Linked DNA regions of Homo sapiens. The protein of the gene in region 1 purifies or fractionates together with the protein of each later gene. This does not show direct contact. Each region holds a gene or a part of one and is shown on either strand. Other genes may lie near its edges.

The links.
Region 2: the proteins of DRC2 (region 1) and MYCBP2 purify together in Homo sapiens (affinity purification with mass spectrometry; 2 studies listed by BioGRID and IntAct, with this or other methods). This does not show direct contact.

The regions. Positions count from the first base shown.
Region 1 is NC_000012.12:48,898,794-48,908,356, forward strand, and holds the start of DRC2 (dynein regulatory complex subunit 2), read left to right. Parts: upstream 1-5,339; 5' UTR 5,340-5,543; coding exon 5,544-5,675; intron 5,676-6,152; coding exon 6,153-6,320; intron 6,321-9,563.
Region 2 is NC_000013.11:77,056,789-77,065,668, reverse strand, and holds part of MYCBP2 (E3 ubiquitin-protein ligase MYCBP2), read left to right. Parts: intron 1-934; coding exon 935-1,054; intron 1,055-2,971; coding exon 2,972-3,073; intron 3,074-3,878; coding exon 3,879-4,007; intron 4,008-4,367; coding exon 4,368-4,500; intron 4,501-6,042; coding exon 6,043-6,146; intron 6,147-7,262; coding exon 7,263-7,451; intron 7,452-8,575; coding exon 8,576-8,683; intron 8,684-8,880. UniProt on the Homo sapiens protein: Atypical E3 ubiquitin-protein ligase which specifically mediates ubiquitination of threonine and serine residues on target proteins, instead of ubiquitinating lysine residues.

The DNA.
Region 1 (9,563 bases):
ATTAAAGGATGGAAATGGGAATAGCACAATGCACAATTACCACTAGAGACCCCTGGCCACTTTGGGATCCTCAGGGCTCTGTGTCGGCAGGCGAAGAAAGAAGTTACTGTGCTGGCTGGGGTGATTGATCCTAACTAGCAATGAAAAATTGGAGGCCGGGCATGGTGGCTCATGCCTGTAATCCCAGCACTTTGGAAGGCCAAGGCAGGCAGATCACCTGAGGTCAGGAGTTCACGACCAGCCTGGCCAACATGGTGAAACCCCATCTCTACTAAATACAAAAATTAGCCAGCCATGGTGGCGCATGCCTGTAATCCCAGCTACTCAAGAGGCTGAGGCAGGAGAATCATTTGAACCTGGAAGCCAAAGGTTGCGGTGAGCCGAGATCATGCCATTGCACCTGTAATCCCAGCTACTCAGGAGGCTGAGGCAGGAAAACGGCTTGAACTGGGGAGGCGGAGGTTGCAGTGAGCCAAGATCGCACCACTGCACTCCAGCCTGGGCGACAGAGCAAGACTCCATCTCAAAAAAAAAAACAAACAACAACAACAATAAATAAATAAATAAAAATACAAAAATTAGCTAGGCATGGTGGCGCACACCTCTATTTCCAGCTACTCAGGAGGCTGAAGCAGGAGAATCGCTTGCACCCAGGAGACCAAGGTTGCAGTGAGCTGAGATTGCACCATTGCACTTCAGCCTGGGTGATAGAGTGAGACTCCGTCAAAAAAAAAAAAAAAAGAAAAAGAAAAATTGGAATATTACTTCACAATGGAGGTAAGTATGAGCATATCAAGGAGATTCCTTGATATACTAAGGAAGATTCCTTAGGTCATCTCAGTATTACTGTGACCTGTGATTAAGGTCAATGGAAAACTAGAACAAAACAATCCAGGACTACTAATGGCCCAGACCCTTCAGAAATGAAGCTTTGAGTCAGTCCATCAGGTAAAGAAACAGGTCAACACCTGTTAAGGTGCTTGCTGAAGGCAAAGGGAATAGGATAGTAGTAGAAAACGGTAGCTATTAATACCAGCTATGACCACGTGACCAGTTATGGACCCTAGGACTATGATTGCCATGAGTATTTCCTCATTTTGTTATTTATATGTTTATGTGTGTGTATATCAAGCAAATATCTTCATTTTCTTTTCTCTTTTATTCCCTCATAATGTAACATAAGATGTATTAACTTTATGTCATAGTTTTAAGTATTATTAATTTTGCATCATAATATCTGAGTTATGGGATATGAAGAAGAGTAAACATCACTCAAGGATTTTACCTCCTCTTCTGAGGAAGGGATTAGTGTTTTATTTTTCTTTTTGAGACCGGGTCTTGCTCTGTCACCCAGGCTGGGGTGCAGCATCAATGCAAAGCTTCGAAATGCAGGCTCAAGTGTTCCTCCCACCCCAGCCTCCTGAGTAGCTGGGACTACAGGTGTGTGCCACCATGCCCAGCTAATTTTTTTTTTTTTTTGAGACAGAGTCTTGCTCTGTCGCCAAACTGCAGTGCAGTGGCACAATCTCTGGCTCACTGCAACCTCCGCCTCCCGGGTTCCAGCAATTCTCCTGCCTTAGCCTCCAGAGTAGCTGGGACTACAGGCGTGTGCCACCACGCCCAGCTCATTTTTATATTTTTATGAGGGGTTTCACCATGTTTGCCAGGATGGTCTCGATCTCTTCACCTCGTGATCCGCCCGCCTCGGCCTCCCAAAGTGCTGGGATTATAGGCGTTAGTCACTGCGCCCGGCCTGTAATGGTTAATTTTATGTGTCAACCTCACTGAGCCACGGAGGGCCCAGACATTTGGTCAAACATTAATCTGGAGGTCAGGCACAGTAGCTTGTGCCTGTAATCCCAGCACTTTGGTTGGCTGAGGTAGGAGGATCGCTTGAAGCCAGGAATTTAAGACCGGCCAGGGCATCATAGCAAGACCCAGTCGCTACAAAAAAATTAAAATAAAAAAAAATAGTTGGCTGGGCACGGTGGCTCACGCCTGTAATCCCAGCACTTTGGGAGGCCAAGGTGGGTGGATCACCTGAGGTTAGGAGTTCCAGGAGTTCGAGACCAGCTGGCCAACATGGTGAAACCCCGTCTCTACTAAAAATACAAAAATTAGCTAGGCGTGGTGGTGGATGCCTGTAATCTCAGCTACTCCGGAGGCTGAGTCAGGAGAATTGCTGAAACCTGCGAGGCGGAGGTTGCAGTGAGCCAAGATCATGCCATTGCACTCCAGCCCAGGCTGACAACAGCAACAGCAAGACTATGACTAAAAAAAAAAAAAAACACTGAGTATGGTGGTGCACACCTGTAGTCCCAGCTACTCAGAAGGCTGAGGTGGGAGGATCCCTAAAGTCCAGGAGTTCGAGGTTGCACTGAGCTACAATTGCATCACTGTACTCCAGCCTGGGTGACAAAATGAGTTTTCTGTCTAAAGAAAAATAAACAAAAAAAAATTATTCTGGTTTTGTCTGTGAGGGTGTTTCCAGATGAGATTAATATTTGAATTGGATTGAGAATTAATTAGTGGTAGATTGAGTAAAGCAGATTGCCCTTGTAACATGGGTGAGCCTCATCCAATCATTGAAGACATGAATAAACCAAAAAGGCTGAGTAAAAGCAGCTCCTCCTGACTAACTGCCTAAGCTGAGGCAGTCTTTTCTGGCCTTCTGACTCAGACTGAAACTCAGACTCTTCTTGGACCTTGAGCTGGCTGGCTTTTAGTCTAGAACTACACATCGGTTCTCCTAAATCTCCAGGTTGCTAATTGCAGATCTTGGGACTTCTGAGCCTCCAATAATAACACCGATTGCTTATAATAAATAAATACACACATCCTATTGGTTCTGTTTTTCTGGAGAGTTCTGAGTAATGTATTATATTTCATATTTAAAACAACTTTATTGGGGCACATGTTGCATATCACATAATTCGCTTTTTTTTTTTTTTTTTAAATACGGAGTTTCGCTCTTGTTGCCCAGGCTGGAGTGCAATGGCACGATCTCAGCTCACCGCAACCTCCGCCTCCTGGGTCCAAGCGATTCTCCTGCCTCAGCCTCCTGAGTAGCTGGGATTACAGGCATGTGCCACCACGCCCAGCTAATTTTGTCTTTTTAGTAGCGATGGGGTTTCTCCATGTTGGTCAGGCTGGTCCCGAACTCCCGACCTTAGGTGATCCAACATGGTGAAACCCCATCTCTACTAAAAATACAAAAAATTAGCCGGGTGTGGTAGCGGGTGCCTGTAATCCCAGCTACTTGGGAAGCTGAGGCAGGAGAATCACTTGAACCTGGGAGGTGCAGGTTGCAGTGAGCCGAGACTGTGCCACCTCACTCCAGCCTGGGCAACAGAGAAAGACTCAGTCAAAAAAGGAGAGAGAGAGGGAGAGGGAGAGAGAAAGAGAGAAAGAAAGGAAGGGAAGGGAAGGGAGAAGAAAAGAAAGTAATCTACTTTCTGTCTTTATAGCTTGGCCTTTTCCGGATATTTCATATAAATGGAACCATACAATATGTAATCACTTGTGTCTGGCTTATTTCACTGAGCATAGGGGTTTTTTTGGCCGAACATGGTGGCTCACGCCTGTAATCCCAGCACTTTGGGAGGCCGAGGTTGGTGGATCATTTGAGGTCAGGAGTTTGAGACCAACCTGGCCAAGATGATGAAACCCCGTCTCTACTAAAAATACAAAAATTAGGCAGGCATGGTGGTGACACCTGTAGTCCAGCTACTCGGGAGGCTGAGGCAGGAGAATTTCTTGAACCCGGGCGGTGGAGGTTGCAGTGAGCCGAGATCACGCACTGCACTCCAGCCTGGGTGACAGAGTGAGACTCCAGTCTTAAAAAAAAAAAAAGGGTTTGTTTGTTTTGTTTTTGTTGTTGTTTCTTTTTGATACAGGGCTGCTCTGTCACCCAACTGGAGTGCAGTGGCTTGACTATGGCTTGACCTCTGGGGCTCAGGTGATCTTCTCACCTCAGCCTCCTGGGGTAGCTGGGACAACAGGTACGCACCACCACGCCCAGCTAACTTCTTTTGTATTTTTTGTGGAGAAGGGGTTTCGCCACATTGCTCAAGCTAGTCTCGATCTCTTGGGCTAAAACGATCCTCCCGCCTCGGCCTCCCAAAGTGCTGGGATTACAGGTGTGAGGCACAGCGCCCAGCCTGCATATTCTTTTTGAGGTTCATCCACATTGTAGCTGGTATCCATAGTTTGTTCTGAATAATATTCCATTGTATGGACATAGCATATTTTGTCTACTCATTCACATGTTAATGGACATTTAGGTTGTCTCCAATTTTTCCAACTGGGCTATTATGAGTGAGACAGATAAGAAAATTCCTGTGCAAGTTTTTGTGTGTATACATGCTTTCATTTCTCTTAGGCAGATCCCTAAGAGTGAAATTATTGGGTCACATGGTAAATTTATGTTTAACATTTTAAAAAATTGCCAAACTGTTTTCCAAAGTGGCTACACCATTTTACATTTCTACCACCAATATATGAGGGTTCTCGTTTCTCCACATTCTCTCCAACACTTATCTTTTTAAAAAAGGTTTTTGTTGTTGTTGTTGTTTGCAGTTTTTACAGTTTTATTTAAACAGAAAACATACACATGAGCTGTCTACTCATTTTCTTTGCTGCGCAGCCTGGGATTGGGGTTGGTGACTCTGACGGCCAGCTGGGCAGCTCTTTTCCACGATGGCTTTGCGGTTCTTGGAGGAAACATTGTGAGCGATCTCAGCACAGTAAGATTTGTTGCACAACAGCAGCACTTCCAGCTCCTTGACGTGTGGACCAGGAATTTCCGGAAGCCACTGGGCAGCATGTGCTTTGTTTTCTTGTTGCTCCCATAATCAATGTTGGGCATCAAGATCTAACCCTTGAACCTTCCACGAACCCTGTTGTCAATACCTCTGGGTTTCCGCCGGTTACGCTTAATTTTGACATATCGGTCAGACTGGTGCCGGATAAACTTCTTGGTTCTCTTTTTGACGATCTTGGGCTTCCCAAGGGTTCTGAGGACGGTTTATAAAAGTGCACTGAGGGGAGGCTGAGACAGGAGAATTGCTTGAACCCGGGAGGCGGAGGTTGCAGTGAGCCGAGATCGTGCCCATCCTAGGCGACAGAGAGAGACTCTATGTCAAAAATAAATAAATAAATAAATAAATAAATAAATAAATAAATAAATAAAATGCACTGAGGAGACAGATTTTTGAGAGTTAAAAGGACCCTCTCAAAAACCGACCGCGGTCCTCCACTGGGTAGGGGGCGCTCCAAGACAGGGACTCTTCTAGCCTGTTGCCTCTCCATGTTAGCGATATCCTCGTTGCTAGGAGACTAGACGCGTCTTACAGTGGGAGAGCTCAGCCTCACTGATAGCCGGGGATCTCTCCTGTTCGAGGGCTGAGATCTCCGGTCCCACAACCGCCCACAACCAGGGGCACTTCTGGAAGTCCCCTTTCTAGGGACATTTTTCTTCTAAGCTCTGTAACGCGGGCCGAGGCAGACCGAGGCTTCTTTCCCGGATCCAATCCCCTGCCCCCATGCCTAAGAAAGAAAAAATGGCCAAGACGCCCCTGTCCGATGAGAAGCAGCTGCTTCTGTTTCAGCAGAAGTTGCTGGCAGAGGAGGAGATGGCCAAAAAGAAGGAGAGGCTCCTCAGCCAGTTCTTGAAGGTGATGGCCTTTTGCATTATGTCCTGCTCAACCCCATCCACCCCCTGCCCTGGCCCTGTCACTGAGGAAACCTCATTTTCATCCTGACCTCCCCTCCTCCGGAAATCCTGAGACCCAGATATACTTAGATTTCAGGCAACATTGTTTGGGAGGCGGGGGTGTTCTCTGCGAAGCACGGAGGGGGTGCGTGGTATACGGCTTGGCAATCTTTACTGAATCCCAGAACTGGGACCGTAGGTCCTGTCAGCTGTTCCAGCTGTCTGGAATGCTGATATTCTCCCTGGAGATAGGTCATTACAAACAACATCCTACTCTGATGCTCCCACCCTGAAGGAAATTCACCCTTGCCCTCCCTAAATGCCATCAGGCCGTTCCCATCGAAAAGGGGTAAGGTGTCAGCTGATAAATTAAGAGTGATCTTGTTTGTTGTACTGAAAGGCCCTGACTTCCTGGAGGTATATTTATTCCTTCACACAGGACAAGCTGGCCAAGGAGGAACACAACAGTGCTCTGAACCTTAATAAGATTAACACACAGTGGAGAACTGTCCTTCGGGAAGTCAAGACCAGAGAACTTCATAAGGACATTGAGATCCTCAGCCAAACATTTGAACGAGTGGTGGACTGTAAGGACAATGTCATCAAGGTAGGCACTCTTTCCAAGGAAACCTTGAGTATGGCTTCCTGACCTCTTAATAGAATGAGCCTAGTGAATCCATCTTAAAGCCCTCACAAGACACAGGCTGTGAGAAAGCCAGGCTATTGGTAATAATGGTTTTCACAGAAATAAAAAATAGAATATTGGGCTTTCATCCCTCTCTCCCTTAGAGGACCCACTCTTCTTGTCATCTATTGCCCAAAACCAGTACTATCCAATAGTAGAGTCATAAGGCACAGTAGACATCACCCAGTGACTTGAAATGAGTCCCACACCTTCATTTCAATGTCAGAAGGCTCAGTTCCAGAGGGGAACTGACTTGCCCAAGGTCACATAGCTAGTCAGTGAGAGAACCAGGACTCCAGCATGTGTTTATTGATTCCCACTGCAGTGCTCCATTCAACTAAATTGTTTGGCCTCTTGATTCAACTTCAGTGGCCCTGGATAAGGTTGAGAAGATCTCCATGGGTAAGAGCAGTTCTGGATTTCTAAGCAATTCAATCAGCCATCCTTATGCTCTTGGGAGGTTCTTGAGTTCTTGATTCCATCCTATCTTTTCTTCTAAGGGATTTTCTGTACCCCTTCTTTTGTCTTACTTTTAATATTCTGCCTCCATTTACTGCCTTCTCCTTAGTCTTTTCCATTATTTATTTATTTATTTATTTGACATGGAGTCTTGCTCTGTTGCCAGGCTGGAGTGCAGTGGCACAATCTCGGCTCAGTGCAACCTCTGCCTCCCAGGTTCAAGTGATTCTTCTGCCTCAGCCTCCCGAGTAGCTGTGACTACAGGCATGTGCCACCATGCCTGGCTAATTTTTGTATTTTTAGTTGAGATGGGGGTTTCACCATGTTGGCCAGGATGGTCTCGATCTCCTGACCTTGTGACCCACCCGCCTTGGCCTCCCAAAGTGCTGGGATTACAGGCGTGAGCCACTGCACCCAGCCAGAGTCTTTTCCATTTTCAACAAAACAAAGCCCACAGTAACAGCAAAATATACATTGCCAACATGGTATTCCCCCTCTAGAAAACACACATTTCTCTTTCATAGCCTAATCCCTGGGGAAAGAGCTCAGCAGACCCTGGGCAGCTTCCAGAGATAAATATTAAGAGTCCTCAAATTTGCAATAACCATTATTCATTAGAAGTCCACATACCCCACCAGTTACACCTTATGGATTTTTTTTTTTTTTTTTTGAGGCAGAGTTTCACTCCTGTTGCCCAGGCTGGAGTGCAATGGCGCAGTCTTGGCTCACTGCAACCTCCGCCTCCCGAGTTCAGCCTCCTGAGTAGCTGGGATTACAGGCATGTGCCACCACGCCCACTAATTTTGTATTTTTAGTAGAGATGGGGTTTCTTCATGTCGGTTAGGCTGGTCTTAAACTCCCGACCTCAGGTGATCCGCCCGCCTCAGTCTCCCAAAGTGCTGGGATTACAGGCATGAGCCACCACGCCCAGCCACTGAGGAGTTTCACTCTTGTCACCAGGCTGGAGTACAGTGGCGCGATCTCGGCTCACTGCAACCTCTGCCTCCTGGGTTCAAGCGATTCTCCTGCCTCAACCTCCTGAATAGCTGGGATTACAGGCGCCCACCACCAAGCCCAGGTAATTTTTGTATTTTTAGTGGAGACGGGATTTCACCATGTTGGCCAGGCTGGTCTGGAACTCCTGACCTTAGGTGATCCACCTGCCTCGGCCTCCCAAAGTGCTGGGATTACAGACGTTAGCCACCGCGCCCAGCCCATACCTTATGGATTTTTAAGAGGCTTTTTCAGACACTTATTGGAAGTTATCAAACACTTGATAAGAGGGCCAGGCACGGTGGCTCAAGCCTGTAATCCCAGCACTTTGGGAGGCTGAGGCAGGCGGATCACGAGGTCAGGAGATCGAGACCATCCTGGCTAACATGGTGAAACCCCATCTCTACTAAAAATACAAAAAATTAGCCAGGCGTGGTGGCGGGCACCTGTAGTCCCAGCTACTCGGGAGGCTGAGGCGGGAGAATGGCGTGAACCCGGGAGGTGGAGCTTGCAGTGAGCAGAGATTGTGCCACTGCACTCCAGCCTGGGTGACAGAGCGAGACTCCGTCTCAAAAAAAACAAAACAAAACAAAAAAACACTTGATAAGAACAGCAGTGTTCATTGCCTAGTGTTCCATTATTGGAATGCTAAGTTTGTGGGAGTTATGTATCTCGTACTGTTCAAGGTCATCGCCAAGATCTGATTTTTCACAAAAAATATTTGCAACCTCAGGCATGAATGGGTTAAGGGAAGCTGAGTAGTTGGCCAGGTTCACCCCGAGACAATTAACTTCTTCCTACACAGCAGCCTTGCAGCTTATGATAACAGTTCTTGCTTAGGTAAATCACACACTGTTAATATTAACCACCTTCAGGGTCATTCCTGAATGAGACTACACATATTAAATGTGGAAATGTTAGTGATCCTCACTATCTCTACTTCTTCACTTCCATTTTACCCTGTATCCCACAGCATCTGATTTCTACCCTTCTCTAGGAAACTGCTCAGGTAAAGGCCACTGGTTCAGAATTGTGGCTACTTTTCATCATTTAGTCTTTATCTAACCTAACCTCTCTATGGCACTGACATTCTTGGTCATGCCCTGGGTCTTGAAATTCTCCTTTGGCTTGCATGACACCATTCTGTCATTTTTCCTACCTCTGGGACATAAATCAGTCACTCCAGTGAGTTTATCTTCCTCTCTCCATCCTCTGAACTTCAGCATTCCCCGGATTTCTGAGTCTGGCCATCTCACCCTTTAACCAGTTTTCTAGGGCCAATCTTACACATTACCCTGGCTTTATTTTATTTTATTTTTTGAGACAGAGTCTCACTTTGTTGTCCAGGCTGAAGTGCAGTAGCACAATCATAGCTCACTACACTCAAGCTCCTGGGCTCAAGTGATCCTCCCACCTGAGCAGTTGGGACTACAGGCTCTCACTATGACTGGCTAAATTTTTAAATTATTTTAATTTTTAGTAGAGACAAGGTCTCGCTGTGTTGCCCAGGCTGATCCTCCCACCTCACCCTCTGGAGTAGCTGGGACCACAGGAGCATACCACCTCACCTAACAAATTTTTAAATTTTTTATAGAGATGCAGTCTCGTTATGTTGCCCATGCTGGTCTTGAACTCCTGGCCTCAAGCAGTCCTCCCACTTCGGCCTCCCAAAGTGCTAGTATTACAGGCATGAGCCACTGGGCTCGGTCCATC
Region 2 (8,880 bases), on another chromosome or scaffold:
TCTCGAAAGTGGAAGTTTCTCATTCTCCTCAGTCCTCATGGTTTTTAAACCCTTTATTCTTCTTTATTAATGTCATATACCCTCTGTCTTAAGATGGTGGCTTCCAAAGGAGATCTGGGAGTGTGGAGGACAGGGAGTTACTTTACAGAATGCCTGGCTCTGATTAGTTGCTCCTTGTCATTTTCCACACATTGTATTATTTCTAGGAGGGCAGCCTGAGAAGGACAAGATAGTATGGAATGTAGAGTCAGAAGGAATAGAAGGCAGCTTGGAGAAGGAGGAGGAATTGAACTGCCCCTTAAATCATGTGGATATGAGAAGTGGGAGGATTTTCTGGGGGAAAGATGAAGTTCTATCACTTTTCCCAACAGCGTGGATATTTTCTCAACCTCTGTGGCAAACAGACTTTCTCAGGGTGTTCATTGAATTAAAATATTTAGGAGTAATATTTAGGAACACCTAAATTATATGATAGTTAAATGTTTGTTCATTACAAATCAAGGTAGCAAATAAAGGTAGTTGCAGTTTGAACCTGTTTATATTTTAGGTTCCTGTAATACTCATCTAAAGCAGTTAGCTTCACTGTGTAAATTTTATGCTAAGTGACAAACTTCTCAAACATAGATAACCTTAGTATTTCTGTTATGTTTTTATCAGATGTGAGAGTAATTGCCCTTGATTTCCAGGAAAAGAGTATTGAGAACTTAATTTTTTATTTATTTATTTTTAAATATCAAAATGATGATTAGAAGTTGAATTTTCCATAGGATCACGAAGAAATTTTAGTTCAAAAGTTTGTGCCCATAATCTAAAATTCCATGGTCTCACTAAAAACAAATATTTCCTTTGATAGGAGATGTTATTTAAGAAAAAAGAGTTTACTATGGTAATACATTTCTGGTCACTTATTAAAATACTCTGTTCTGCTCAATAGGGTCATCTGTCAGAAGCTTGGTCCCGAGTGACAAAAAATGCTATTGCAGAAACCATCATTGCCTTGACCAAGATGGAAGAAGAATTTAGGTCTCCAGTGAGATGTATTGCAACAACTAGAGTAGGTTTTGCTTTGTTTTGTTTTGTTTTAAATTTGGTGTGTATCATTGCGTGTTCTTTTTTAGTAATAGATTTAAACAAATTTTAATCACTAAGTCAACATAATTATTTTTTAACCAAATACCGTATTTATTGAAAAAGTATAAAGGGCTTTTATATTATGAACTAGTCGTTACTTCTCACTGTTATGTGTTCTGTGTCACTTGTTTTTGTTATTGTTTAGGAAGCCAAGGGTACACTGGTTAGAAAAGGCTAATTACATTGTACATTGTTTGCGTGTTGTCTTTCTAATGATCTGTTTGCTGTAGTTTACCACAGTAAGTTTAGTGCCAGCATTATGCTGTGATAGACCGAAGGTCCTTTGGAGACAAGACCCCTGCCTATGCCTGGTTGTTCCTAATGTAGAGCCCTGTAACTTACTTACAGGATTTATAGGTCTTACTTCTAAAAAGCAAGAAGTGCTTGTCCAGGGCAGGGTCAGGGTGGAAATCTTTGAGGAAATGAGATTGCATTCTTCAGATGACACATTTATAGTAAGTTTTAACCTGCTAGATTTCATGTCCCATATACTTCCAGAAGAGATTTGAGATTTCCTTGAAGGAGGGCAGTCTGACAACGTTAGGAAGAAGTGAATGCTGGTAAAAATTGCTTAGGTTAATCCTCAGAAATCTGAAGAAGATAAACTATATATCCCTAGGGCGGAAAAAGTCAATTTATGCTATCTTGCTATTATTGACTGTGACACCTGAAATAGGTATTTTTGACAGTAATCCTTTCCTACCACTCATGTGTTGCTTTCTTTCAGTCTGCATTCCCCTTCCTCCTTGCATGCATTATTTCTTTTTCTATTTTTCTGTCCCTATTTTAACATCTCTTGCTTTCTGTATCCAATAACACTCACATGCACTTCTTAGAGTTGAGCTAGTTAAGTCATTTTCTATTCTTCATTAATGAGGGGATATATCATTCTATATAAAACTGAAGCTTACCCTTTAAGCCTCAGAAATTTTTAACTATTTCTGAAAACAGTTGTCTTTTTTTTTTTTTTTTTTTTTTTGAGACAGAGTTTCACTCTTGATGCCCAGGCTGGAGTGCAATGGTACGATCTTGGCTCACTGCAGCCTCCGCCTGCAGGTACAAGCGATTCTCCTGTCTCAGCCTCCCAAGTAGCTCGGATTACAGGCATATACCACCACACCTGGCTAATTTTTTTTGTATTTAGTAAAGACTGGGTTTCACCATGTTAGTCAGGCTGGTCATAACCCCCTGACCTCAGGTGATCCACCCACCTTGGCCTCCCAAAGTGCTGGGATTACAGGCATGTGCCACTGTGCCCGGCCCTATTTTGGAGAACAGTTTTCTAAAGCTTTTAGACATGTATGTATTTCTGACAAAGTGCACCAAGTATAGTATTAGGCTTTCTGGGGCAACAAGGGGCAACAAAGACTTCTGAGGAACTTTTATTATCTAGAAGGATTTAATGTGTACCTGACTACTCATGGGACTGTACACAATTTAGCAGTTGCTGTACCACCTTCTTTGGCATTTAATGATACTAAATGGAAAAATATTCAGAAGACATTAGTAGTAAATATTAAATATGCCAATTCATTTATTCATATGTTGTTTACATAGTAGACCAATAAAGGATAATTTTATTTGTCAGATAGAAGACAGGGTGGTTCATCAGAGAAACAGTCACTTGTTCAGTAGATATCTGAGTGCCTCCTGTGTGCATGGCACATAGGACAGTGATCGTGTATGCCTGCTACCACATCAGGAAGACTTGAGTGCCACTGAGTATCTATGTATTTTCAAAATCAGCCAGCATTTATTGAGCTGTTGTGATGTGTCACAGTCAGCATTTCATAAGTCTTTCCTAAAAATTCAGTGGTGTAACAGCCTTCCCTTTCAACAGCTCTGGCTTGCTCTCGCATCCCTATGTGTTCTTGATCAGGACCACGTAGATCGTCTCTCCTCGGGGAGATGGATGGGAAAGGATGGACAACAAAAACAAATGGTAAGATCAGAATTTTGTAAGAATTTATCTTGCTTTCCTTTACAGTAAGCTTTAGCTTAGCTTAAAAACAAACAAACAAACAAAAAACACATCAACATAAACAGTTAGTGGATCTCTTGAAAGATTGTGTCCCTTCGGCCAAGTTCATCTCACAAGTCTATTTCAGAGAGTCCCTACTTCATAGTATATGGAAACTTTAGGGGCTTTTATTTAAGTATATTAAAGAGCTTTCTTCTTCTCTGAGTCATGTTTGCATCATATCAAAATTTATTTTTAGCCAGAGTCTGATTTAGTGACTAGATATTTTACTAAAATGTAATCAGTCTTATGGTAGGAAGGAAATAAAGCAATAACACAGGCAACATGACACACCACCTGTTCACATATATACTTAAGTAGGTTTGATGGGTATCTTTAAGTTCACTAGAAAGGAAAACTTTATATAGGCCCTTTCACCATTTTCTTATTAATGTTCAAGTTTCAAAAATAAACAGTTTCTTCCTTTGGCATACAGAATGTTTAGATATATAATGGGGCAGACATTTCTTAAGTCTCTAAGTAACAAAGTATACCTGTTCATTGTATTAATCATTGAACCTGCAAAGCACATTAATGATTGGATTTGGAGTTTTGAGAGATTTTTATAGTTAAGTACATTTGCAATAATTCTGTTTAATATTCAGATTCTAAATTCTTAATAGACTTCCGAATAACGGTTTATTTTTGTAAATAAATTATATTCAATTTGTATGAGAGTCTGAGACTTGCTTGTTAATCTAAGTAACGTGGAAATGTCTTATTTTAGCCTATGTGTGATAACCATGATGATGGTGAAACTGCAGCAATCATTTTATGCAATGTCTGTGGAAATTTATGTACAGACTGTGACAGATTCCTTCACCTTCATCGAAGAACCAAAACTCATCAAAGACAGGTGAAGATTTTTGTCTCTGGAGCATAAAATATGTTCAGTGAATTTTGAAATAAATGTGTGAAAGAGGCTTTGTGTAGTAGGGGGAAAAAGTGGACTTTGGAATCAAAGACCTTGGTTGAGTTCACAGCTGTCTCGCTTACCATCTATAAATAGCAAGTTGTTTTATCCTTAGAAACACTTAATTTCTCCATTTATAAAAAAGGGACTGCTGTGAAGATTAAAGAGAAGATTGGAAATATTCAAAACTTCTTAGAGTGCTTAAATGAAAGCCATTATTATTATTGAATAATTAAATTTTATACTCTCCCTTTCAGAGTGATAAATAAGCATATTTTTCCCTGTTCTTTAATGAAATAATAGGTCTTCAAAGAAGAAGAAGAAGCTATAAAGGTTGACCTTCATGAAGGTTGTGGTAGAACCAAATTGTTCTGGTTGATGGCACTGGCAGATTCTAAAACAATGAAGGCAATGGTGGAATTCCGAGAACACACAGGTAAAAGGTTTAAAGATTGAGCCATGCCTTTAAAACCCACAAAAAAAGATTAAACCGTGCCAACTGATTAAACTGTGAATAATTTTGAGTGATATTCTGATGTTTAATTATGACATCATTGATCTATATATTTACTAAATATATAGAGTGTTCTATGGTGAAGAGAGCATTAGACCAAAAGTCAAGAAACCTGATTTGCCACTAACTAGCTGTGTGGTGTCGAGCAAGTCACTTAACCTCTGGAACTCATTGACTTCATTTATAAAGTGAGAGGATCACAACTAATGGGGCTCCATAGATAAAATACATTTCTATTGATAATTCCCTTCTAGTTCTGCTAGTTGTTGCCCCACAATAAAAATTGCTGCACTAGATGATCACTAAGATCTCTATTTATTATAAGGTTGTATGATTTTATGATATTTAGAGGTTTTTGTAGACCTAATGCTTCTGAAGGTGTTGTGAATGGTACTGTTTCCATTGATAGCAATAAAATAATTAACAAAAATGAATAGACATAAAACAAAAGGTAACCTATGTATGTTAAATGTATTTTTATCTCTAAAACATAGTTTTCATTTTGCTGCTTTTCTAAAGTAAATCTTGTATATTCCTAGTTCAAAGTTATGTTGAATCTTACAAATTCTCAGTTTTCAGCACATCTGCAGTCTGCCATTTGACTGACACGAACTTCCAGTGTTGGAGTTAGGTGTAAATCCGAATCAATTTAATTCTAGGGTGACTTTGCATGCTGCAAGAGCATGACCTTCTTTTCTCATAGTTGATTTCTTCCTCCTATAATCTGTCAGTGCTGTATACTGCATTAATAAATGTTCTAATGTCAAACCATCCTTGTAAACCATCCTTTTTAAATAGATTTTTCTGTAAATATTGCTGAATTCAATATATTGATATTAATTATAGTTAGATTTTTATATCTGTGTTTAAAAATCAGCTTGGTCTGTAATTTTCAAATCTTCACGTTCTTTTTCTTATTGCTCTGTTCTTGTTTTATTGATTCTGTTTCTTCTTTAAGTATTTCAAACATATTTAAATTCCTTTTCAAATTGCAGAGTTCCTGAGGTAGGAATTCTGTTTTTCAAGTTTCATACTCTGATGATAGGCTTTATACCATGCCTTATAATTTTGTTATATATAGTTAAAGATTTCCCTAACTTCTGTGTATTTTTATTTAATTTTTGGTTATCATATTTTTTATGGTATTGTGCATTTGGAGTCAGGGGCTTGTAACAGCTGCTCAGTCTGGTAACTTGACTAGAAGTCTAGTCTGTTTCTTTCACTGAAAAAAAATATTAGTCGAGAGTGTATTTGGCTTCAGATAGGTCTTTAATTTCTTTTTTTGTGTGTCATTATTTACTTTATAATTAGGACAACTTAGAAACCTTCCGTTCTAAAACTGTCAGGCTGATTTCCCAAGGATAGCAACTTATACAAACCTAGTTTGCTTTTTAAAATTTAGTTCTGTTAACATATCTAGAAAACATCCATAAGAAGGATTTTTATTTTTCTGCTTGAACCTAGGCAAACCCACCACGAGTAGCTCAGAAGCATGTCGCTTCTGTGGTTCCAGGAGTGGAACAGAGTTATCTGCTGTTGGCAGTGTTTGTTCTGATGCAGATTGCCAGGTGAGTATATAGTGACACAGGCCATCCCATTGTCCATGTTCCCCTGTGACACCTTTACTTCATACAGAAAAGAGTTTTAGCTCAGCGTCACTCCAGCTTCCTAAATGAGTGTATTACCTATGTGAAGCATCAAATGCCTTACCAAAGTTGAAGAATGGGTCAAATAAGGCTCTCAAGCCCAAACCACACTCTTTTTGTATGTTTCTCAGTTACCATGATCATATGTATTTAATATCTACTTTTGTACTAGAAACAGTTAAAAATTTATGAACTGTATTTCCTTTATCTCTTACAGACATTATTCACTTATTTCCTTAAAATACATTTTCAACATCTAAGAGTTCTTTAATCCTGAACATATATAAACATATTCTATGTTGTCCAAATGTTTTTGGTTTCTCAATTAATAAGAATGTGGATATGCTCAGAGAGTCAAAGGTACCTTTTTAAAAAAAAAAAAAATCTGCATTTTGGTGATGCGGAGAGTGGTGACTGGGAAATTATACATTGGGGAACTTTTTTTATTTTTTATTTTTTTGAGACGGAGTCTGGCTGTGTCGCCCAGGCTGGAGTACAGTGGCACGATCTCGGCTCACTGCAACCTCCGCCTCCCGGGTTCAAGCGATTCTCCTGCCTCAGCTTCCTAAGTAGCTGGGATTACAGGCGCGCGCCACCATGCCTGGTTAATTTTTGTATTTTTAGTAGAGATGGGGTTTCACCATATTGGTCAGGCTGGTCTCAAACTCCTGATCTCGTGATCTGCCCACCTCAGCCTCCCAAAGTGCTGGGATTACAGGTGTAAGCCACGACTCCCAGCCAGGAACTTTTTGCTTTATAGCTGTGCATGATGACAAATATGAAATTATAATTCACTTATCAGCATTCCCTTTATAGAGAGTGGCATTTTTTAAAAATCGCATCAAAAAAAAAAAACTTTGTTAAGAAGCCTAATTTATATTCAAACAAAGATTAGAAATAACTTTACTTTGTTGTTACTTGGCCTGCATAGATACTTCCTGTGGGAAAGTAATCTTTGGAAATTTATATAATAAGGAAAATTACCAGAATGTGTGCTTTTTTACATACTTGTGTAACATTGTAATTCATCTTTAACAGGAATACGCTAAGATAGCCTGTAGTAAGACGCATCCTTGTGGCCATCCATGCGGGGGTGTTAAAAACGAAGAGCACTGTCTGCCCTGTCTACACGGCTGTGACAAAAGTGCCACAAGCCTGAAGCAAGACGCCGATGACATGTGCATGATATGTTTCACCGAAGCGCTCTCGGCAGCACCAGCCATTCAGGTTGCCTCAGCTTTTAAAGTATTGAATGTATCCAGACATTAAGATGGGGAATATATTTGTCAAATAAACATTGATTGAGGCCGGGCGCAGTGGCTCATGCCTGTAATCCCAGCACTTTGGGAGGCCGAGGCAGGTGGATCACGAGGTCAGGAGATCGAGACCATCCTGGCTAACACAGTGAGACCCCGTCTCTACTACAAAAATACAAAAAAATTAGCTGGGCGTGGTGGTGGGTGCCTGTAGTCCCAGCTACTCAGGAGGCTGAGTCAGGAGAATGGCATGAAGCCAGGAGACGGAGCTTGCAGTGATCTGAGATGGCACCACTGCACTGCAGCCTGGTGACAGAGCGAGACTCTGTCTCAAAAAAAAAAAAAAAAAAAAAAGCAGTTGATTGAAATCTTTTTTTATATCACTAGGCAGAAGTGTTCTTTTAATCTATACATGTACCAGGCTAATGAGGAGCAAATTCTGCCTCTTTATGCTGTGCTTTCTATGTTGCATGCTCAGCTTTAATTTGTGATTTGTGTGAACCTCTGTAATCAACAGAATGTATAAAATATTCAGAAGCCAGGGGGAAATAATTAGATTATCCCCCAGTAGCTAAGGCTCTTCTTAATTTCCAAAATCCAGAATGGTATTTTTACAACATTATATAATTGATCTATACATAATGATACATACTTCTATACATACACAAGTTACTGTGCACTAAATAGGTTTTTTTAACTTTTGCCCATTGCTTATATTTTCAGTTCTCATGATTCCAAGATAATAATAGTCTCCAAAAGAAAATCATAAGTCAGTAATTTCTTCTTCTTTCTGTGAGATACAAAATTGAATAATTTTACTTTTTTTCCTAACCTAGCTTACTTTATATAAGTGGCATGAATGTTAAAAAGCAGGAGAAGCCAAAGGCCTAGTTAATAGTATCCCAATTTACTGTAATGAAATTTAGTAAATAATAATGTCCCAATTTCAGTGTCCCAATGAATTTTCATTATAGTAAATTTCTTGATTTTTCTCTTACCTGCTTTAAGTAGTGCCTTGCATTAAATAATCTCCCAGTCACTCAACTGTTTATCATTATTATATTTGCTTATGTCCTTTTCTTTTGTTTATTTAAGCTGGATTGTAGTCACATATTCCACTTACAGTGCTGTCGGCGAGTATTAGAAAATCGATGGCTTGGCCCAAGGATAACATTTGGATTTATATCTTGTCCCATTTGCAAGGTATGGAAAGAATCTGAAATCATGTACTTTCTTTTTCTTTTGTTCTTTCTTTTCACCTTTCAAAATAAACATATGTCAGTATCTCTTGGTTTTACCCACCAGCCCCTAGCAGTTTCTTCCCTTCTCATTCATGTGGAACCTGAGAATATAATCTCTCTGTTATAATGCATCTCAAAACAGTAATTGTCCATTTAAAA